Regions from separate parts of the Homo sapiens genome. Here region 1 is linked to region 2. The links come from fine-mapping of genetic effects on gene expression. A gene starts in region 2. The other region holds a variant in brackets. All regions are shown on one strand. Distances are from middle to middle. Region 1 overlaps DNAL1 (dynein axonemal light chain 1). Region 2 holds the start of MIDEAS (mitotic deacetylase associated SANT domain protein).

What was found. PIP is the estimated chance that this variant, and not a neighbour inherited with it, causes the effect. A credible set is the group of variants that fine-mapping cannot tell apart.
Region 1: its variant is the best candidate, but not a certain one, in a credible set for the expression of MIDEAS in fibroblasts (GTEx, PIP 0.66).

The regions. Positions count from the first base shown.
Region 1 is chr14:73,667,972-73,673,345 of GRCh38, reverse strand. It overlaps DNAL1 (dynein axonemal light chain 1), which reads right to left. Exons shown (of 8, transcript NM_031427.4): 5 at 1,749-1,804. Among named protein-coding and RNA genes, the nearest start is that of DNAL1, 26 kb to the right of the region's middle. RefSeq lists a cis regulatory region at 5,332 and an enhancer at 5,248-5,374. The variant G/A (reference allele first, on the strand shown) is at 2,319.
Region 2 is chr14:73,757,798-73,763,171 of GRCh38, reverse strand. It overlaps MIDEAS (mitotic deacetylase associated SANT domain protein), which reads left to right and starts at 2,869. Exons shown (of 13, transcript NM_001367710.1): 1 at 2,869-3,409. MIR4505 (microRNA 4505) reads right to left here and starts at 4,425; the gene lies at 4,353-4,425. RefSeq lists enhancers at 601-900, 502-1,023, 1,024-1,546, 2,462-2,791, 4,852-4,901 and silencers at 3,212-3,451, 3,582-3,731, 4,092-4,201.

The DNA of each region.
Region 1 (5,374 bases), 90 kb after region 2:
GGGATTCTATAAGGGATTCTATAAATACCTGGGGGAACATCAAGTATATTGACACTAAAAGTTCTGGAGTACATTTATCTGCAAACTATTTCTTTATAGATAACTCAAAGTTACATTTAGCCTGAAATATAATAATTCTGAATTTCTGTATTACAATTTAATATTTTACGCTTTATGCACAATGTCTCTATATTTGAAATTTTTCCATCTAAGGCTCAGAAACTGGACAGAAGGCTAAATATCCTTAAACTTACCAATTTATTTAGAACATCACAAATATCAAATTTTGCCCAGGTGTGGTGGCTCACGCCTGTAATCCCAGCACTTTGGGAGGCCGAGGCAGGCGGATCATGAGGTCAGGAGATCGAGACCATCCTGGCTACTACGGTGAAACCCCATCTCTATTAAAAAAATACAAAAAAATTAGCCAGGTGTGGTGGTGGGCGCCTGTAGTCCCAGCTACTCGGGAGGCTGAGGCAGGAGAATGGCATGAACCCGGGAGGCGGAGGTTGCAGTGAGCTGATATTATGTCACTGCACCCTAGCCTGGGTGACAGGGCAAGACTCCGTCTCAAAAAAAAAAAAAATCAAATTTTTACAGATCATTAAGAATTTTACTCACCATATCCAATTAGAAAACAAATAATTCATCTGATGGTTATTATTTTGGGTTAGGAAACTTCCTTTATTTAATCCCAGAATCTGACCCTTAAGAATTTCTTTTTTTTTTTTTTTTTTTGAGACAGAGTCTCGCTCTGTCACCCAGGCTGGAGTGCAGTGGCGCAATCTCAGCTCACTGCAACCTCCGCCTCCTGGGTTCATGCCATTCTCCTGCCTCAGCCTCCCAAGTAGCTGGGACTACAGGCGCCCGCCACCACACCCAGCTAGTTTTTTTGTATTTTTTTAATAGAGATAGGGTTTCACCGTGGTAGCCAGGATGGTCTCCATCTCCTGACCTCGTGATCTGCCTGCCTCGGCCTCCCAAAGTGCTGGGATTACAGGCGTGAGCCACTGCTCTCAGCCTGACCCTTAAGAATTTCCAGCATTTTATAAACTCATCAGTACCTCTTTATGCAGGTAAATAGAATCACAGAGGTGGAAATATAATTCAGAGTTTGGCTAACAAATTTGAGATAATTCCAAAATTGCACCTCTGAACATGACTCCTATTCAGGGTTACCACTGTTTCTGTACTGGGCAGGATGGTCATGTTAGCCTGTTTTGTCTTGGGAGGTTACTGTTGGAAACCACTGCAATTTCAGCTCCCCACTGCCTCTTACGAAGCACAAGCTAGATTTATTGGGAGGGGAAAAGCAGCCAGGGCCATACAAAATTTCAGTATGTTTATGAATTATTTAACAATAAACATCAAAAAGTATTGTCTTTTCGGGAACAGATACAAGAAATATTCACTTCATCTTTCCTGAAATTGCCTAGTTTTACGTTATTGTTCCATCTCACATTCTTTGGAAGGAAATTCAAATGGCCAATAAATATAGAAATAAGACATGTCAAAAAAATTTTAAATGCCCAAGGCTGGTATGGGAAATTGGGAAACCTCACACGTTACTGGTGGGAGTACAGGTTGTTGCAAACCTATTGAAGGGTAACTTGAGAATATGTCACAAAAGCCTTAAAAGAAACTGATACCTTTTGACCTAGTAATTCCATTTCAAGGAATTTATCCAAGAAATTATTCATAGATGTGTGCAAATTAAATAAATAAAATAATAATAAATAACAACCTACCAGTCCATTTAAGTTCTTTATGTTGTTTCTTCCTAAAGATAATATCCTCAAGTTTTCTGTAGTGAAAAGAAAACATTTTTTTGTTTACTAGAATCATATTACACAATTGTTGTAAATCTAGAATAATAAAGCTTTAATAAGTTTTATATAATAGATATCCTTATACAATGAGTAAGAAAGGTTGTGTTAACAAAAATGGGTAATCAAGTAGAAATAACATTGACCTATCATCTAAAGTAAACAGTACAGGTATAATTTCATAACATGTCAATATTAAATTTAAAAATGGTTAGCTATCTGGAACACATGGTCTTAAATTGCTGGCTAATAAAAATATTACAGGATAAAATAGCAGTAGAGAATATTTTGAGTTTGGGAGCATATATATTTCAAATCTCTTACAAGAACTCATACTAGAAAATAAGAACATATATTTATATATTGTCCATCTCACTCCATGAAGGATCAGAAGTGAAAAAAAATAAATTTGGTATTTAAAAAATCATTTTCTTTCAAGTTTTTAAATAATTAGACTGTGATTTGGTTAAAAAATAAAATGCCTGGCCGGGC[G/A]TGGTGGCTCACACCTGTAATCCCAGCACTTTGGGAGGCTGAGGCGGGCGGATCACGAGGTCAGGAGATCGAGACCATCCTGGCTAACACGGTGAAACCCCGTCTCTACTAAAAATACAAAAAATTAGCTGGGTGTGGTGGTGGGCACCTGTAGTCCCAGCTACTCGGGAGGCTGAGGCAGGAGAATGGTGTGAATTCAGGAGGCGGAGCTTGCAGTGAGCCGAGATCTCGCCACTGCACTCCAGCCTGGGCGACAGAGCGAGAATCCATCTCAAAAAAAAATAATAATAAAAATAAATAAAAAATAAAAAATAAAATAAAATGCCTATCTTTATTTTTTAAAGGTTATTTCTATTTGTATATCTATAGGCTATTTCTGGAAGAGAAAAAAGAAAGTAGAAACCGTGGTTGTCTTTGGGGAGGAACTAACAGAAGTAGACATTTCCCATTGTAACCTCTTTTGAACCATTTGAATAAAACCAGGTGCATATATTATTTTTCCAAATTAAAAATAAATTTCTTTTTGAAACACCCAGGAAACCTCATTTCTGTTCCAAGAAACTACTGTGATTACTTTTGCTTATTACTATATTTAATTTTCATAACTTAAACATCTATAACTTCTTTGTCTAATATGGTGGTCACTAGCCACATGTGGCTCTTTAATTAAAATTAATTACAATTTAAAATTCAGTTTCTCAGTCACATTAGCCACATTTCATAGTGCTTAATAACTATATGTAGCTAGTAGCAACTGTATTGGGACAGTGCTGACAGTTCTGTTGGATGACATTGTTCTATAACATCCATAATTGAATGGTAAGAACTCAAATCCAATTAACTGAGTTTCAATCCCAACTCTCTAGGGAAGCAAACAAACCTCTTTGAATCTATTTTCCCATATATAAAATGGGGAAATATAATTTCTATCTTATAGGAATTTAAGGATGAAATGAGATAATTACCTAAAATATTCAGTGAAATGTGTAACCCATGGTAAGTACACAATACAGATGTGTGTGTGAATGTGTGTGTGTGTGTGTATGTGTGTGTGTGAGAATCAGGCATATATAACTTCAATTTATTTAATAAATTAATTTGTCTTACAAGAAACAATGAGCTTTTAGAGCAAGGTATTTTAAGAGTGGTCTAATTCACACAAAATGATTTAACTGTTGAAGCAAGACCCCATGTTATGGGCTGAACTGTGTCCCCCGGAAAATTCATATCTTTAAATCCTAATCCCTAGTATCAGAATAGGACTGCATTTGGAGACAGAGCCTGTAAAGAGGTAATTGGGCCAGGCATTGTAGCTTATGCCAATTATCCCAGCACTTTGAGAAGGTGAAGTGGGAGTATCATTTGATGCCAGAAGTTCGAGACCAGCCTGGGCAACATAGAAAGACTCTGCCTTTACAGAAATAAAAATAAAAAATAAAAAATAAAAAATTTAGACCGGGCGTGGTGGCTCATGCCTGTAATCCCAGCACTTTGGGAGGCCGAGGCGGGTGGATCACGAGGTCAGAAGATCGAGACCATCCTGGCCAACATGGTGAAACCCCATCTCTACTAAAAATACAAAAATTAGCTGGGCATGGTGGCGCATGCCTGTAATCCCAGCTACTTGGGAGGCTGAGGCAGGAGAATCGCTTGAACCCGGGAGGCGGAGGTCACAGTGAGCCAAGATTGCGCCACTGCACTCTAGCCTGGTGACAGAGCAAGATTCCCTCTCAAAAAAAAGTTTAGCTGGGCATGGTGGCACATGCCTGTAAGCCTAGCTACTCAGGGAGGCTGAGGCAGGAGGATGGTTTCAGCACAGGAGTTTGCACCACTACACTCTAGCCTGGGTAACAGAGTGAGACCCTGTCTAAAAGAAAAAAAGAAAAAGGTAATTAATTGGGCCATTTGGACACTTAAAAAAAAATAAAGGGGTAATTAAGGTAAAATGAGGTCATTTGGATGGGCCCTAATCCAACATGATCGGTATCCTTGTAACAAGAGGCAATTTGGACATAGACACAGAGAAAAGAACATGTACAGAGAGAGGGAGGGGCCAGGTGTAGAGGCTCACGCCTGTAATCCCATCACTTTGGGAGGCCGAGGCGGGTGGATCACTTGAGGCCAGGAGTTTGAGACCAGCCTGGCCAACATGGCGAAACCCTGTCTCTACTAAAAATAAAAAAATTAGCTGGGCATGGTGGTGTGTCCCTGTAATCCCAGCTACTCGGAAAGCTGAGGCAGGAGAATTGCTTGAACCTGGGAGGCGGAGGTTGCAGTGAGCCAAGATCGTGCCATTGCACCCTAGCCTGGGTGATAGAGCAAGGCTCTGTCTCAAAAAAAAAAGAGACAGAGGGAGAAGACGGCCATCTACAAGCCAAGCAGAGCGGCCTCAGAAGAGATCAACCACACTGACATCTTGATCACAACTACAGGACTTTTACCCTCCAGAACTGTGAGAAAATTTCTATTGTTTAAGCCACCCAATCTGTGGGACTTTGTTACAGCAACCTAGCAAATTAATATATCCCATATAACTATAAATTTATGAAAATTAAATATTTAAGAAAATCACATAATTATTCTTTAAAGCTTCTTGATATGAAAAAACACCATTTTCTTTTTTCTATTTCATGAAGAATTAAACGCTTATTCGATAACTTATTCACTCAACACATAAGTTACTGACCATCTACTATACACCAGGAACAGCAATAAGCACTTGCAATATTACAGCAAATAATACAGACAAAAATTCCTGCTATCAAGGAGCTAACATTTGGCAGATAAACAAAATAAGTAAGTATATTAGATAGTGAAAAATGTGAAGGAGAAAAGAAATAAGCAGGTAAAAGGAATGAAATATCAGGAGGTTGGGAACAGTTGATTTTTTGATAGGAGATGATGTTAGGGAAAGACCCAAAGGAAGTTAGTAAGGGAGTTCACCATGCACATATCTGGAGGAAGAACATTTACACGCAAGAGAACTTCAAGTACAAAGGCTTTGAGGCAGGACCGCATAAGCTGAGAGAATGAAGGAAGAGTAATAGGACATGAAA
Region 2 (5,374 bases):
AGAGACTGGGTTTTGCCACGTTGCCTAGGCTGGTCTCTAAACTCCTGCGCTCAAGCACTCCTCCTGCCTCAGCCTTCTAAAGTTCTGGGGTTACAGGTGTGAACCACTGTGCCTGGCCTCATCCTTGGAAGATTTTAATGGTCTAGATACTGCTGATGAAACACAGGGCAGTGACAGACCGCTCTGAGTGGAGTCCAGAGAGCTGATGTGGCCCTAGGAAGCCTCTCAAATTTGCCATATTCTACCTTTATTGGGAATCAGAGTTTAGGATTCTGTCTAGGGTGCTTTATTTCCTGGAGTGTTTCTCTCTTGTCACACTCCCTGGTAACTGGAGCTCTGTACTCCTTTTTCGTGCAGTTTGTAAAGAGGGTTGAGGGTGGAGAAAATCCAACTCTGTGGATAAGGTCTCTGGAACACCTCCCCATTTCCCTGAAAGGTCAACCTTCTTGGTTGCCCCAGAGACTTGTAGCAGGGGCTGGAGCTTCTAAAACCAAAACTTTCACTTCACACGTCAGTGATTCTGCACCGTCATATCTGCAGCAAAACTGACCTCCAGGGCTTTCCCGGAAGCGCTGCAGCTTTCTTTACATAGCCTCATCTGCCCGCCTTTTTGAGGTAGACTTCTCCTGCCAAGGGGGGGCTATTTGGTATAGTCTTGAGCCCTCCTCCCCTGCACACATGTGTGCCCCTTTTCTTCTCTCTCCTTTCTTAGGTGGCCTGAATTTGGAAGTTTAGCTGTAGTGAAGGGCGGTGCCGCTCCAAGGTGAGCAAGGCTCCTTCAGGGCCACTGACTTCTCTGTTTCCCCTGCCACCTGCCTCCACTATGTATGCTGCTTCCTGGGCCACTCCTTTGGAGTGGCTTTCACCTGTTCCCTGAAGGCTGGGCCCTGGCTCCATGATGGCAGGCTCTTCTAGCAATGTGCTTCCCAGTCAGGTTTTCTGGTTGGTTGGGAACATCCCTGGGCTGGTCTGCACAAGCTCTTAGGGGCTCACTCTGGGCTGGCCTAAGGCCAACTGCAGGGGCTGGGCTCTCAGGGGAGGTGAGGATGGCCACAGGTCTGCAGAGGAACTTGGCAGCAGTGGGCACTGGAGACCAAATGGCTTTGCTTTTGCTTCCCTCACTTGGATGTGTTGTCAGTGGGAGGGAAGAAATCAGGCAAATGAAAAAAGTAAAAAGGCTCTACCCTGATCCTTTGCCAGGAGCCCTGAGAGTCTGGCCTCTGCTTGGGGGTCTGCAGGCCTGAGCACTGCAGTTCCTCAATTGCTCACTGCCTTCCTCTGGGGGAGGAGCAGAGAGGTCACAGATGCTTGGCTTGCCCTGTGACCTGGTGCAATTCACTTAACCTCTCTGAACCTCAGTACATCCACAGATTGAGAGAGATAAAACTCACATGCAGGGCTCTTCAGGAGACTGTATGGAGAAGTGCTCTGAGAGCTGCCAGGAACAATACTGTCATCACAGATGCTAAATCGGGGAGCCCGGGCTTTTTTTTGTAGAAGGTGGTTTCCCTAGCTCCTCTATTCACTTACTGTAATCACAGAATCATGGATCTTGAACTGGAAGGGATCTCAAGAGGTCCTCTGGTCCAGTCCTGTGGCATAATTACCTGTATTTTGTAGATAAGATTGTTTTAAGTGTTCCTTATTTTGACATATCTATCATAACATGGTGCAAATAAGCCCTTCTCCTCTTGGGGAGGTGTGACTTCCAGGTGTACATGTACGCAGGTGCTCCAGCCAGCAAAGAGGTGGAAGAGGACAGGAAAGCCATGCCCCCTTAGAAGCAAGTGCAGGTTTGGCAGGATTTCTGGGCAGAAGATCCAAGTTTTGCCTGTGTCCTCCACACCCCACCCTGGCCCTGTAGGCCCAGTGAGTGTGTGAGAATCATATTCTGCTGCCCCTCCCTCCTCTTCTCCCTGAGAAAGTGAGGGATGCACCTGGTTCTCAGGTCTGGCCACAGTGTTTTGAAAAGTGGCTGCCAGGACACATGGTATTCTTCGGTGGTTTTTCTTTCAAAGGAAAATCTCCTTGTGACCCATCTCCTTGAAAAACAGCCACCGCCACCACCGCCGCCGCCACCACCACCACTGCACCACCACCAAAAAACTTGGAAGGAAGAATAGGACACACTCCCCTGAACTTTCCCCTGGCCCTAGAGCCCCATTGAATGTGGGGGCCAGAACCAACCTCTTGAGCTGCAAAAATGTTTTCCATCTTCCCACCAGTCAGGCAAGGAGGCATCAAGGCCTGGACCTGAGAATTGATCAGGGGGATATTTAGGGAAGACAGGGGAAAATGTGAGTATGGAGTGAAAAGCCGCTCAACTCTGGCCTGAGTTGCTAGATTTAAATCCAGGAGATTTTCCTCACCTAAGCGATGGAGATGGTGGGTCCTTTCTAGGGACTGAGGCCAGTTTCTCAATAACCTTTACACGCACCAGGACGCTTTTGAGCCAGAAAGTGAAACTCGGAGAGTCTGTTAATAAAATGCCATGGAGAGGATTGTGCATGATTTACCGTATCCAAAACCAGAGAGAGTTTCTTTGTGGAAGAAAGCGACTTGTGCCTTCCCCAGCATCACACACACACTTTCCTGGCAGGCTCAATGGGTTTCCAAACATTTCGTCACCGTCTCCTCCTGACCTTGGTGTGAAAGGAACTAGCAGCGTGGCCCGCCAGCAAAGCCATCGGGGGCGCCAGCCTGGGCGGGGGATGGGGACGGCGACCGACTCGTGAGTGGAGGTGAGGTCTGCTGGAAATCCCCAGCCCCGGCCGCCGCCTGAGGTTTAAGGACGCCTTCCCCGGCCTTATTTGGTCGCAGGAAGTGGGCGGCGCCGGGCCTGCTGGCTGAGGCCGCCCCGAGACAGTTGTGCTGATGAAGTGGTAGAGCTGGTTCCTGCTCGCCGCGGTGCCGCGCGCGCCGGCCGGCCGCTGGGCGCTCCGCGCTCCCAGCCTCGAGTTGTGCAATCCTTTGTAGCACGCCAGAGTCCTCCTCCTCCGCTGTTGCCTCTCGCCCTCTCTCTTTTTTTTTTTTTCAAGCTGTGAGCTCAACCGATGAGTCAGAGCCGTGCAATCCTGACACTGCATCGCAGGACTGGGGGTGACACGGAGGGAGGCAGAGCGCTCGCGAGGCGGACGGCACGGGTGCGGGGCGCGCCGAGGCTCCTGCATCGCAAGCGGGGGGTGACAGCCCGCGCGTCCCGCCCGGGCCCTGCCAGCAAACTTCTCAGCCTCGGGAGGCGCGGGCTGGCGGAAGCCCCGCGAGCGCCGCGGGGAGGCGACGGCGCCTGTTTGTTTTTAAAATCGGGAGTGCGTGCAGGCGGCTGGAGTCCCGGAGGCGACCGAAGGCGGCGACCCGCGGCGGAAGGGGGACAGCCGAGCCCGGAGCCCGGAGCCCGGGCAAGAGCTGGGTAAGTGGGGCTGCCTGGCCGGCGGCCGAGGCCTGCACGCGGCGGGGCCGGCGAGGGGACCCCAGGCGGCGCGCGAGCTGTGGCTGCTCGCACGGCGGGTTGCAGCTCTGCAGGCGCGGCCCGGAGAGGGGGCCGCGGGGGCCGCTGCGCTCGAACTTCTGCGGCCTGGGCGGCGGTGGAGCGGGCGCGTGTGGCCGTGCGGGGGCCGCCTGCAGCCCGCCGCCCCCTCCCCCGCGGTCCGCGCCCTCGGCCCGCAGCTGCGTGTGCAGCGCAGCCCCGCGGTGTTTGTGCAGCTACGCAGCTTGCGCGCGGCCCCCGCCCACCCGGGCGCGGCCCCGCCAGGAAAGCCCTCCCCACCCGGCGGCCCGCGGCGGCTCGGGAATCCGGCTGCTCCTCCTCCGCTGGAGAGAAACGTGGTGTCCGTGGGGACCGGCTGACGTGACGGAGCCCAGGCCCGGAAGGCGCGGCGAGGGGCTAGCCAGCTGAGGGAACTTGGCGCGGGAGCCCCTTCCCCTGCCAGCGTGCACGGGAAAGTGGGCCTGGACGCGGCGTCCACGCCAGGAGTTTGGGGGACAGAGGTGCAGGGGCGTTGGGGAACTGGGGCAAATGCAGTCAGCAGAGGCCTAGGCTGGAGCGCTTCGCGCGGGCGGGCGCACCTCAGACCTGTCATCCTCCCGCGCGCCCCCGCACGCCCGCGCCGCCGCAGCCCTCCCAGCCCGCGCGGTGCCTCGCGGGGAGCTGTGTTCCCTGGTGCCTGGCGGCAGCGCCGAAACCCGGGATTCGGCCGGGCCCTGCATATGGCCGGCTTGGTGGAGCTGGTCACGTCGCCTCCCAAGTCGCACATGCAGGACCATGTGTGTCAGGTTGCCCCCAAGGCCTCTGGGTAAAGGTCTAGGGGAGGAAGGGGAACTTCGTGTGCCCTGGGGCCTTCAGGCTTCAGCCCCAAGGCGGGCCGACATGGAGGAGGTACCTGCCACAGAAAGTGGAGGCCGGGTGTCCGTCCCAGCCCAGCCTCCAGCGAGAGCTGGTGAGAAGATGAAAGGGGAAGTTATATGCCCCATTTAAAACTTTGTTGGTCACAACTACGGTGGCTGCTTCCTGTTTCCACCATCCCACGTGGGACCTGTGTGCCAGCCTGTGGAGCCTCGCGCGGGGGGCGGTGGGATGGGGGAAGAGAGGCTGGCCACGGAGGCCCCGGTGGCCCGCGTATGCAGGGGATCCCTGTTGGCAGCTGCGGCTGGGGGAGGGAGGGGATGTCTGGCTTGCTCCAGCAGGGGGAGCCTGGCCAGGTGATCTGGGATCTTCTTGTTCCTGTAGCTTCAGGGTTGAGACTGAAGGCCTAGTGAAGGTGGACCGAGAAGCCAGTCCTCCCTAGGGGGCCTCAGCTGAGGGGAGAAACCACCTGTCTTGCTCTAGAGCCTCCCACCAAAGGTGTGGCACACGCCCCTTTTGGATCAGAGAAATGCACCCTTTCCTTGGGTGTTAAGTGGCTTCAGAACCCAGGGAAAAGGAGAAGCCTTCCCGGGTTGAGAATTCGTAGGTCTTCCTTTTCCAACTGCTCTGGACAGTGAATAATAGGAGCGTAAACATTCAATTACTGTGATAAACCATCTCGTTGCATGGCCCTGGTCCAGTCTCCACTCTAATTGGATTGGCCTCTGGCTGGTTACTCTGGTCCGTGTAGCTCCCGGGGGGACAAGGGGGTGAAGAACCTGGAGGATGCCCCCAGGTCATACAGCTTGCCAGCTTGCTCTGGAACAGCCTAGCCACTGCCAGTGTGGCCTCTCCAAGTGCCAGCAGAACCCCCACTCCCGTGACTCTGTCAGCTCCTCACCCCGCCCCAGGAAAGAGCGCCCTGGAGTGCCCATGGGGATGAGAATTTAATTTTTACATGTGGGATTTTAAAATAGCCCCAGTGTTTGACCCTGTGTGCTGCTGCTTTCAATAAGTGGAACACAAGAAAAG